2 separate regions of the Homo sapiens genome follow, and region 1 is linked to region 2. Evidence: fine-mapped expression QTL. A gene starts in region 2. The other region holds a variant in brackets. All regions are shown on one strand. Distances are from middle to middle.

What was found. PIP is the estimated chance that this variant, and not a neighbour inherited with it, causes the effect.
Region 1: its variant is the best candidate, but not a certain one, in a credible set for the expression of LSR in subcutaneous fat (FUSION, PIP 0.64).

Annotation. Positions count from the first base shown.
Region 1 is chr19:35,287,154-35,292,634 of GRCh38, forward strand. It overlaps MAG (myelin associated glycoprotein), which reads left to right and starts at 5,008. Exons shown (of 11, transcript NM_002361.4): 1 at 5,008-5,051. The variant A/G (reference allele first, on the strand shown) is at 2,694.
Region 2 is chr19:35,245,996-35,251,237 of GRCh38, forward strand. It overlaps LSR (lipolysis stimulated lipoprotein receptor), which reads left to right and starts at 3,007. Exons shown (of 10, transcript NM_205834.4): 1 at 3,007-3,136; 2 at 4,320-4,664. The coding sequence starts at 3,028. RefSeq lists enhancers at 1,591-1,760, 1,894-2,696, 2,697-3,498 and silencers at 2,611-2,690, 3,101-3,170.

The DNA.
Region 1 (5,481 bases), 41 kb after region 2:
CTGTGATTACAGGTGGGCCTGGCCTGCCCACATTTGATAGAAACAGACATAGGGGCTGTTATTTCACTGTCTTCTTAGCTCCCAGGAAGCAACAGCTCTCACTTGATGGTAAAGGGCATTGGTCATTCGGCCTCAATGTTGGGTGTGGGCAGGGAGTGGGAAGGCCCAGGCTGGGCGGGAGAGGGCTCCAAGACACGGCTGCCACACCCAAGGCAGGTAAACCTGACTAGAACTTCTGATTTTGTCAAGAGAAGGTGGGAATTCCTATTTTTATTAGAGATTTCTTGCTTTGACAGTATTGGCAACTGAGCAAAGCAATTTGTCTTTTAACATCAACATTCTGTGAGCCAAACGAAGCCCAGCTGGGCGCCAGATCAGTCTGGGGCACCATCAATGTCTGCCTTCGCTTTGGAATCCACAGAGGCTTGTCCTCTGGGAGGGGAGGTTTCCTGAATGAAAACTGAAGGGATAGGGAGAGGGGAGTTGTGGTGAGCTTGGCCTCTTATTAGCTGTAACATCTTGCATGCATCTTCTTCATATCCGGAGCTCCACCTCCTCATCTGTATTTTTTATTTTATTTTTTTAGTCTGGGTCTTGCTCCATAGCCCAGGCTGAAGTGCAGTGGTGTGATCATGGCTCACTGCAGTCTTGATCTCCCGGGCTCAAGCGATCCTCCCACCTCTGCCTCCTGAGTAGCTGGGACCGCAGGTGCCTATCACCACGCCCCGCTAAAGTTTTGTATTTTGTGTAGAGACGTGGATCTGGCTGTGTTGCCCAGGCGGGTCTCAAACTCATGGCTTCAAATGATCCTCCCACTTCAGCCTCCCAAAATGCTGGGACTACAGTTGTGAGCCACCATGCCTGGCCTCTCCTTACCTTTAAAAGAACAGAGGCACTGGGCGTGGTGGCTCACGCTGTAATCCCAGCACTTTGGGAGGCCAAGGCGGGTGGATCACCTGAGGTCAGGAGTTTGAGACCAGCCTGACCAACATGGTGAAACCCCGTCTCTACTGAAAATACAAAAATTAGCCAGGCGTGTTGGCGCACACCTATAATCTCAGCTACTCTGGAGGCTGAGGCAGGAGAATCGCTTGAACCCAGGAAGCAGAGGTTGCAGTGAACCAAGATCATGCCACTGCACTCCAGCCTGGGTGACAGAACAAGACTCCATCTCAAAAAAAAAAAAAAAAAACAAAAAAGGAACAGAAGCTAAGTCCATACAGGACTTAGCTTAACTGGCTCTAGAGCTGCTCAACCAAGGGAATGAGTGTGAAATTGCTTTGGAAACTGTCCAATGCTTCCTCAATGTAAAGGATTCATATTGACAGGAGAGGGTAGAGGCCTCCCTCCTGGCAGGTGGGAAACCTGAAATCAGGAATTACACTTAATGACACGGGGTGCTCTTCTCTCCTGAGCAAGCAGTTCTCTGGGGTGGTCCTAGAGAGATGGGAGAACATGTAAAGCAGAGATACTCAAATTTCAGCGTGCTCAAAATCTCCTGGAGGGCCTGCAAAAATGCAGATGGGTCCAGGCTCAGTGGCTCAAGCCTGTAATCCCAGCACTTTAGGAAGCTGAGGCTGGAGGATCACTTGAAGCCAGGAGTTCGAGACCAGCCTGGCCAACATGGTGAAAGCCCGTCTCTACTAAAAATACAAAAATTAGCTGGGTGTGGTGGTGCACACGTGTAGTCCCAGCTACTCGGGAGGTTGAGGCACGAGAATTGCTTGAACCTGGGAGGCAGAAGCTGAGGTGAGCTGAGACCTTGCCACTGCACTCTAGCCTGGGTGACAGAATGAGACTCTGTCTCAAAAAAAATTAAATAAATAAAAATAAAATGCAGATGAGGCTGGGCGTGGTGGAGCATGCCTATAATCCCAGTGGTTTACGAGGCTGAGACGGGAGGATTACTTGAGGCCAGGAATTCAAGGCTGCAGTGACCTATGATGGCACCACTGCACTGCAGCCTGGGTGACACAGTGAGACGATGTCTGTAAAACAAATAAACAAATAAACTGCAGATAGCTGGGCCTCCAGAATTTCTGATTCCACAGGTGCAAGGCGGGGCCCTTGACCTTGCATTTTGAGCAAGCTGCAGTCCTGTGGAGGACTGGTTGTGAAGCTGACACCATTGTCTGAGGGCAGCAAAGGCTCTTGGATGGATTGAGCCTCAGCTCCCATCTATGAGAGCTTTAAGCTTTAAGTGAGAGCTCCCCATGGCCGAGAGCTTCATTCTGAATTCCTGCTGCTAGGAATTCAAAACTCACATTGAAGTCCTAACGCCTAGTAGCTCAGAATGTGACCTTAGTTGGAGGCAGGGTCTTCACAGAGGTAATCAAGTTAAAATGAGACGGGAGAATCCTAATCCAATATAACTGGTTTCCTAAATCTGACAGGGTACAGTGACTCACACCTGTAATCCCAGCAGTTTGGGAGGCCAACACAGGAGGACTGCTTGAGATCAGGAATTCAAGACCAGCCTGGGCAATATAGTGAGACCCTGTCTCTAGCAAAAAAAAAAAAAAAAAAAAAAGTGCCAGTAGTCCCAGTTACTATTGAGAGGCTGAAGCAAGAGAGTCGCTTGAATCTGGAGGGTGGAGGTGGCAGTAAGGTATGATTGCACCACTGCATTCCAGCCTAAATGACAAAGCAATACTATGTCTCAAACATAAATAAATAAATAAATAAATAAATAA[A/G]TAAATAAATAAACGGCAAATCTGGGCAGGGGTGAATACAGGGGGAAGGGAATGTGAAGATGAAGATGCCATACAGAGAAAGGCCCGGAACAGATCCTCACACCCCTCAGAAGGAACCAACACTGCCAGCACTTGATCTTGTTGATCTTGGAATTCAAGCTCAATTCTGGCAGGGTTTTTTGTTTGTTTGTTTGTTTGTTTGTTTGAGTCGGAGTCTTGCTCTGTTGCCCAGCCTGGAGTGCAGTGGCGCAATCTCCGCTCACTGCCAGCCCCGCCTCCCGGGTTCACGCCATTCTCCTGCCTCAGCCTCCTGAGTAGCTGGGACTACAGGCGCCTGCCACCATGCCCGGCTAATTTTTTGTATTTTTAGTAGAGACAGGGTTTCACCGTGTTAGCCATGATGGTCTCGATCTCCTGACCTCGTGATCTGCCCGCCTTGGCCTCCCAAAGCACTGGGAGTACAGGTGTGAGCCACCGTGCATGGCCTCAATTCCGGTTTTTAAGCCACCCAGTTTGTGAAACTTTGTTGTAACAGCCCTGGAAAACTGATACACCTGCTCTCTCGTAAAAGATCAGCTGATACGGCAGCACCGGCCACTGGATCTGCGGGTCAGTTGTCCCCTTAGACAGGGCACCTGCCCGCCAGTCACAGGTCCTGTCACCCAGCCCCTTCCTCTCATGGGCTCCAGCCGCCTCGCTCCCACAGGTCTCCTGGAGACCCGAGTTGCTGATGTCAGCGACTATTGCGAGTGCTCCTGTGGGACACTGTCCTCTCCCCAGCAACAGCCTTCAGTTCACACCCAGGGAGGAGATGGAGCCCCACACTGCACCAGCACACGACTCCAGCTCCAACTAGGTGGGTGTTGATGCTGAAGGCTGTGACATGCAAATACCCCCCAGGATCTCCTTGTCACCCCGACCACCACCACCAAAGCCCAGGCACCAGGCCCCTCTCTTCTCCAGGACCCAGGCATTCAAGCCCCGCCCGACTCTCAATGGTCCTTTGTCCCGGACTGGGAAAGGCACGGGCAGAGTCTGACATCATGAAGCCTGGGGTGGGGGTGGGACTCCCCCTCCCCCTCCAACTCCCCCCCAGCCCCACAACGCTTCTCTCCCTGGTCTGAGGGATTTCCCCGCCCCTCACCCCCTGGGTTCTCCCTTGAGAGCGAGGACCCCCCCTCCCCACTGCTCTGGCCTGAAGGAGGACAGGAGATGTCCCAGTGAGGCTGAACAGCTCATGGTGAAATCACTGCTGCACTTTGTCACGCCACCTCCAGCTGCCCCGAGCCCCCACCCACCTTGCAAAAGTCATGACCAAGGGGTGGAATCTGCACTCAGAGGGTCCTTGCCCAACTTGGTCAGCACAGTCCTATGTGCACCAAGCACTGCCCCGGGGACAGAAGGGTGCACATGACAGACAGAGAGGCAGATAGGTTTCTGGTGAGCCCCTGCCTCTGAGAGCTCCTGGGTTAGTGGGAGGCAGAGGCGGGCAGACCTAGGGTGCACACGGGCCAGCCTGCCAAGGCTACAGAAGGAAAGGACAGCATTGCAATGGAGGGGCCTGGCTGATGGGCGAAGATGGGAAAGCTTCCCAGGGAAGCGGCACCCAGGCTGCTGAGCCTACAGGATGGGTGAACGGCAGCCAGTGCCAGAGTGGGGAGTGCTATGGGGTGGGGACTGCTTTCCAGGAAGAATGAGCAGCAGGTGCACAGGCCTTGAGTCTGAAGGTGCCCTGGGGCTCTGGGGAACACATTCAACCACCCACACTGTTTATTAAGCTCAACTGCCTGCCAGGAGCTTGTCTACGAGCAAGGATGGATTGAGAATATCCAAGACGAAGCTTCTGGCCTGGTGGAGGTCACGTTCTCATGAAAGGAGTTGGTGAACACGGAAGGTCATTTCAGATGGCAAGAGGAGGTGACACTGACGTTGAGGGTGGAAAGGACCTGTCTCCTCCTGCTGCCCACCTAATGTTGCCACCAAGATTCCCTGAGGACAATGCCTCTGTCCCTCAGCCTGGGACTTCCAAAGAGATTAGACTGCCCCCCCACCCCCGGGACCCAGAATCAGGGTGTACAGGGATGGAAGATGGGGAGAGAGCAAGGCAGCCACTCCCGACCCCTCCAGGAAAGAGCTAGGAGAACCCAGGCGTCAGGCTGCCCAGTCCGAGCCCCGTGGTGACAAGGGCCCCTTTGTGCCCCCCTCCCCCGGGGGTAGGGAGGAGCTGGGCCCTGGAGGCAGGCGGCCCCTGGCACCCAGGGGGAGGGGAGGGGCTGGCAAGTGGGGGCCTAGACCCTGGAAGGCAGGGGACTGCGAGCTGGGCTGGCGGAGCAGAGGTGCAGAAGCAACTGAGTCCAAGTGAGTATGGTGGCAGGGAGGCCAGGGCAAGGGGAGCAGGGCACCGGGGCAGTGGCACCCAGACGTGAGCAGGGTCAGGTGCTCTGGGTGAGGGAGCATCGCTGTGCACCGCTACTGATTTAGGATGCAGGAGTGTGTGGCTTGGGGCTGCTTTGGGGATGGGCTCGGACCATCGCTGGGGCAGCGATGGGGCTCTGGGAAGAAACCACAGAGAGAAAAAACAAAGGGCCCCCCCTCAGCACCCCTTGTGGGTGAAGATTTTGCAGGAGAGGTTTCCTTGGGGTTCCCGAGTGCGGGGCAGATGGGGTGGAGGAGGTCTGCATCTGGCCGAAGAATGGAAGGATGTCCAGGTGATCAGACACCTGCAGGCTGCAATCTGGGAGGTGGATGGGGGCAGTGGGCTGTTAGTGACTGCATTCTAGCACCTGGG
Region 2 (5,242 bases):
AATGGCCCAGGCCGGGTGCAGTGGCTCACACCTATGTGAGCACTTTGGGAAGCCAAGGCAGGTAGATTACTTGAGGTCAGGAGTTCGAGACCAGCCTGGCCAACATGGTGAAACCCCATCTCTTCTAAAAATACAAAAATTAACCCAGTGTGGTGGCATGCACCTGTAATCCCAAATACTCGGGAGGCTGAGGCATGAGAATCGGTTGAACCCGGCAGGTGGAGGTTGCAGTAAGCGGAGATCACACCACTGCACTCCAACCTGGGCGACAAAGTGAGACTCAGTCTCAAAAAATAAAATGAAATAAAATAAAGTGGCTCAAAGACTCAATTTAAGAGTTAAAACTATAAAACTCTTAGAAGAAAATATTGTTGAAAATCTTCATCACATTGGACTTGGCAACAACTGCATAAATAGGATACCAAAAGTACAAGGAAGAAAAAATAGTAGGTAAATTGAACTTCATCAAATTAAGAACTTTTGTGCACCAAAGGACACTATCAAGAAAGTGAAAAAACCTGGAGAATGGAAGAAAATATTTGCAGATCATATATCTAACAAGGGATTAATATTCAAAATATATATAGAACTCCTACAACTTGACAACAAAAAAACAAACAACCCAATTCAAAAATGGGCAAAGTACTTGAATAGACACTTCTCCAAAGAAGATATACTAATGGACAATAAATTCGTGGAAATATGCTCAACATCGTTAGTCATTGGGGAAATGCAGATTACAACCACAATGAGATGCCACTTCACACTAACCAGGATGGCCATAATCAAGAAAATGGATAATAAGTTTTGGTGGGGATGTGGAGAAATTGGAATCCTCCGTGCATTGCTGGTGGGAATGTACAATAGTGCAGTCATTGGGGAAAACAGTTTGGCAGTTCCTCAAAAGGTTAAAAATAGAACTACCAAGTCACCCAGCAATTCCATTCTTAGGCATATATTCAAAAGAAATGAAAGCAGATATTTGTACACCAGTGTTCACAGCTGCACTATTTACAATAGTCAAAAGGTAGAAACAACCTAGGTCCATCCACAAATGAATGGATAAATAAAACGTAGCATATACATACAATGGTACACTAGTCCGCTGTAAAAAGAAATTTTGATCTTACTGCATGCTACATGGCTTCGACATACTACAACATGGATGGACCTTGAAAACATTATTCTTTGTGAAATAAACTAGACACAGGACAAATGTTAGACGATTCCACTTATATGAGGCACCTAGAATGGGCAATTTGGTAAGCAAAGTAGAATAGAAATTACTAGGGGCACAGGTAGCAGGGAATGGGGAGTTACTGTTTAATGGTCACAGAGTTTATGTTGGGGATGATGAAACAGTTTCGGGGATAAAGAGTGGTGATTGGTACACGACATTGTGAATATACTTAATGCCACTGAATTTTACACTTGAAGTGGTTAAAGCGATAAATATTATAGTTTGCATATTTTATCATAAAAATATTTTTTTAAACGATGAAGGGACGTGAACGGGTTGAAATTTTATAAAAAGTGGCCAGGGAAGGTGTCACTGCAATGGTGTCCTACAGGAGGAGGAAGATCATGTGGACATCTGCGGGAAGGGTGTTCTGGCAGAGGGAGTAGCACGGGCGATGGCTCTGAGGACTGTGAGAAGTATAGTTGGAAACAGCGAGGAGGCCAGGGTGTCCGAAGCTGAGTAAGCCAGAGAGAGTGGGAGGAGGTGAGATAAGAGGGGGAAGGTCAGTTTCTGCTGAGAGTGAGGAGGAGCCACAGGAGGGCTGTGAGCAGGTGGACGTGATCTGGCTTGAGTTTTAACAGGGCCAGTAGAACAAAGCACGCCTGGGTACCGAAACCAGCCACTGGCCAGTTGGCAACCTGGGGGAGTCTAACGCGAGGAAGCGCCCAGGGTTCCCCCAGGATGCGCTTTCCCTCGCCGCCACCTGGAGACAGCAGAGTCACGCCCAGCGCTGCGCAGGCTGATCGCCGCGCCGCGCCCCCGCCCTCGGTCGCAGGTGGCTCGTTCCGGGAATTCCTAAGCGGAAACCGGTCCCAAGCCCCGCGCCTTCGCTCGGCCCCTTTAAGAGCCAGAATTTCCGGAGGGCTGACCCGGGGGCTAGGGATGCCCAGGGGCCGAACCACAAGTTGGGAACGGGTGGGGGAGGTGGCGAAAACTTCCGAAGTGGAATTCCAACTTTTCCTGGCCCTGATTCCCCTTGGGCATCCCTGAGGGGGCAGAGCTTCCCTTCCGGGGACTTTAGAGGGTTCCTCAGGTCATCTAACTGGGAGACACAGGAGGCCCGAAGCGCCCCCCCTCCACCCGGTCCGGAGGAACCCCAGTGGAAGTGGAGAAGTCAGGCGCCACCAACAAGCCTCTCCCAGCCAGGACTTTGCTTAGACTCGCTCCTCCCGGCAGGGCGCACCTAGGCGGGTCCATCGCCAGCCGGGGAGAGGGGTTTGGGCAGGGAGGGAACAGGTGCGCGGCGGGACCCGCCCTATCTCAACAGGTGAATCGCTCCAAGTGGGTCTCGGTTGCATGGATCTCGGTGCGCTTGGTTTGGCCGGAGCAGATGGGGGCCGGAAGGGACCTGTGGTCCGCAGGCGCCCTCCCAGCGGGCCAGTCACTTGGTTCGGGCCCTGGGGGACGGAGCGCACCTGGGTCAGCCCACTTCCGGGGAGGGAGGCAGAGGAACCCCTCCCCGCCGCTCACCCCTAAGCCCAGCCCTCGGCTCCCACCCTTGTGTACCTGGGCCGAACCATTCACCGGAGCGCGCAGCGGGTGGAGTGTGGCTCGGAGGACCGCGGCGGGTCAAGCACCTTTCTCCCCCATATCTGAAAGCATGCCCTTTGTCCACGTCGTTTACGCTCATTAAAACTTCCAGAATGCAACAGGACGGACTTGGAGTAGGGACAAGGAACGGAAGTGGGAAGGGGAGGAGCGTGCACCCCTCCTGGCCTTGGTGCGCGCCGCGCCCCCTAAGGTACTTTGGAAGGGACGCGCGGGCCAGACGCGCCCAGACGGCCGCGATGGCGCTGTTGGCCGGCGGGCTCTCCAGAGGGCTGGGCTCCCACCCGGCCGCCGCAGGCCGGGACGCGGTCGTCTTCGTGTGGCTTCTGCTTAGCACCTGGTGCACAGGTACGGGGCACGGGGCCTCTGACGCTGCGGAACGCCGGAGGGAACTGTAGAGGGGGATGGATGGAGTTGGAGGCGGCGGGAAGCGGGAAGCGGGGGTCTCAGAGGCTGGGACCTTCCGATCCCCTGGGTCTTGGGCGATCTGTTGCGCGCGGGAGTGAGAGGAATTCCCCATTTGTGCCGGGGAGCGCTCCCCGCGCCCTTATCTGGAAGATAGCAGGAAGTGAAACTCCCTGGACGGTGAGACCCGGAGCGGCAGGGAGAATGGAACTCTTTGTGGGGAGGGAGTGGAAGACCGCCCGATCTCTGGGAAAAGAAAAGCCGGGATGGGACTTGGGCGCACCCGGGGATTTCTAAGTTTTGGAGTAACGGGGAGAGGGCACGGGAGGGCTGGATCAGACGCTTCCTAGAGGGACAGAGACGAAGGAACAATGCCTAGGCCTCGGGTGGGTGTGGGACTGGGGACTCCCCATCCCCCGCACCCCACCCACCTCCCGCGGGCTCCGGATTATACGTGCGTAAGAGTCTGGTGGGATGGATTTACGGACTTGAAACCGACTTCTGCTGGCAGGCTTTCACCTGGATGGGATATTTGGGTGGTGATGAGGTCTTTCCCGAGACACTTTTGGTTCAGTCATTTGAAATGACTTTAGAGTAGGGTGAGGTGGTGGGAGGCTGATGGAGATATTGTGGGGGCTTTAGTCCCTCCATGGCAAAGCAGTTCAGGCAAACAACTCCATGGTTTTCCCTCCAAATTCAAAAGGCCCCGGGTAACCTGGAATCCTTCGTAGTCGGTTTTGAAGTGGGGCCTTGGGCGCTGGGGGCATCAACATGGCCATCTGGGCTTGCCTGCCCAGGCCACACAGAGGCCCCTTGTTGTGGGTGAATGGCAAAGGGAAGAGGGGACTGGTGTGGTTCAGAGGCCACAGGCTGGGAAGAGGGATGGCGGGCGAGTCCAAGGAAACTGGCCGTGTCACCGTGCACCTGCCACTTCAGCCCCACGGGTCTATAAAATGGGCATGATTATCGTGGCTACCTCACTGGTCCTGGCAATTAAGGAACAATGTGTGCCAGGCACTCTGTAAACCACATACTTGCGAGTGTCAAGCTGGTGACAGGTGGCGTTCCTGTTGAAGCACCTCCCTGAGCTCACAGCAACCCTTGCTGTCTCTCCTCTTGCCCTCAGCTCCTGCCAGGGCCATCCAGGTGACCGTGTCCAACCCCTACCACGTGGTGATCCTCTTCCAGCCTGTGACCCTGCCCTGTACCTACCAGATGACCTCGACCCCCACGCAACCCATCGTCATCTGGAAGTACAAGTCTTTCTGCCGGGACCGCATCGCCGATGCCTTCTCCCCGGCCAGCGTCGACAACCAGCTCAATGCCCAGCTGGCAGCCGGGAACCCAGGCTACAACCCCTACGTTGAGTGCCAGGACAGCGTGCGCACCGTCAGGGTCGTGGCCACCAAGCAGGGCAACGCTGTGACCCTGGGAGATTACTACCAGGGCCGGAGGATTACCATCACCGGAAGTATGTTGGGCAGGGCAGGGGGATGAGGCTGGGCTTGCCCGGGTGGTGGGACTGGCGTCCTTGTGCGGGACCTGGAGTCCCCATCTGAAAGCTCTTGAGTGCCAGTGTCTGAAAGGACCATTGAAGGGAGCAATTCTTTTTTTTTTTTTTTTTGAAGATGGAGTCTTGCTCTGGACTCCAGGCTGGAGTGCAGTGGTGCGATCTCAGCTCACTGCAACCTCCACCTCCCAGGTTCAAGCAATTCTCTTGCCTCAGCCTCCCGAGTAGCTGGGACTCCAGGTGCGTGCCACCACGCCCAGTTAATTTTTGTATTTTTAGTAGAGATGGGGTTTCACCATGTTGGCCAGGCTGGTCTCAAACTCCTGACCTCAAATGATCTGCCCGCCTTGGCCTCGCAAAGTGCTGAGAGACACCATACCCAGCCTAAAGGGAGCGATTCTATTCTACTATTCTTCCTTCTGCTAATCCTTCCATTCTTTAATTTAATAACGAAGATTTTTTGAGTACCTGTCATATACCAGGTGCTGTTCTGGGCCCTGGGAATACAGCTGTTAACAAAATCATCAAACCACTTCCCT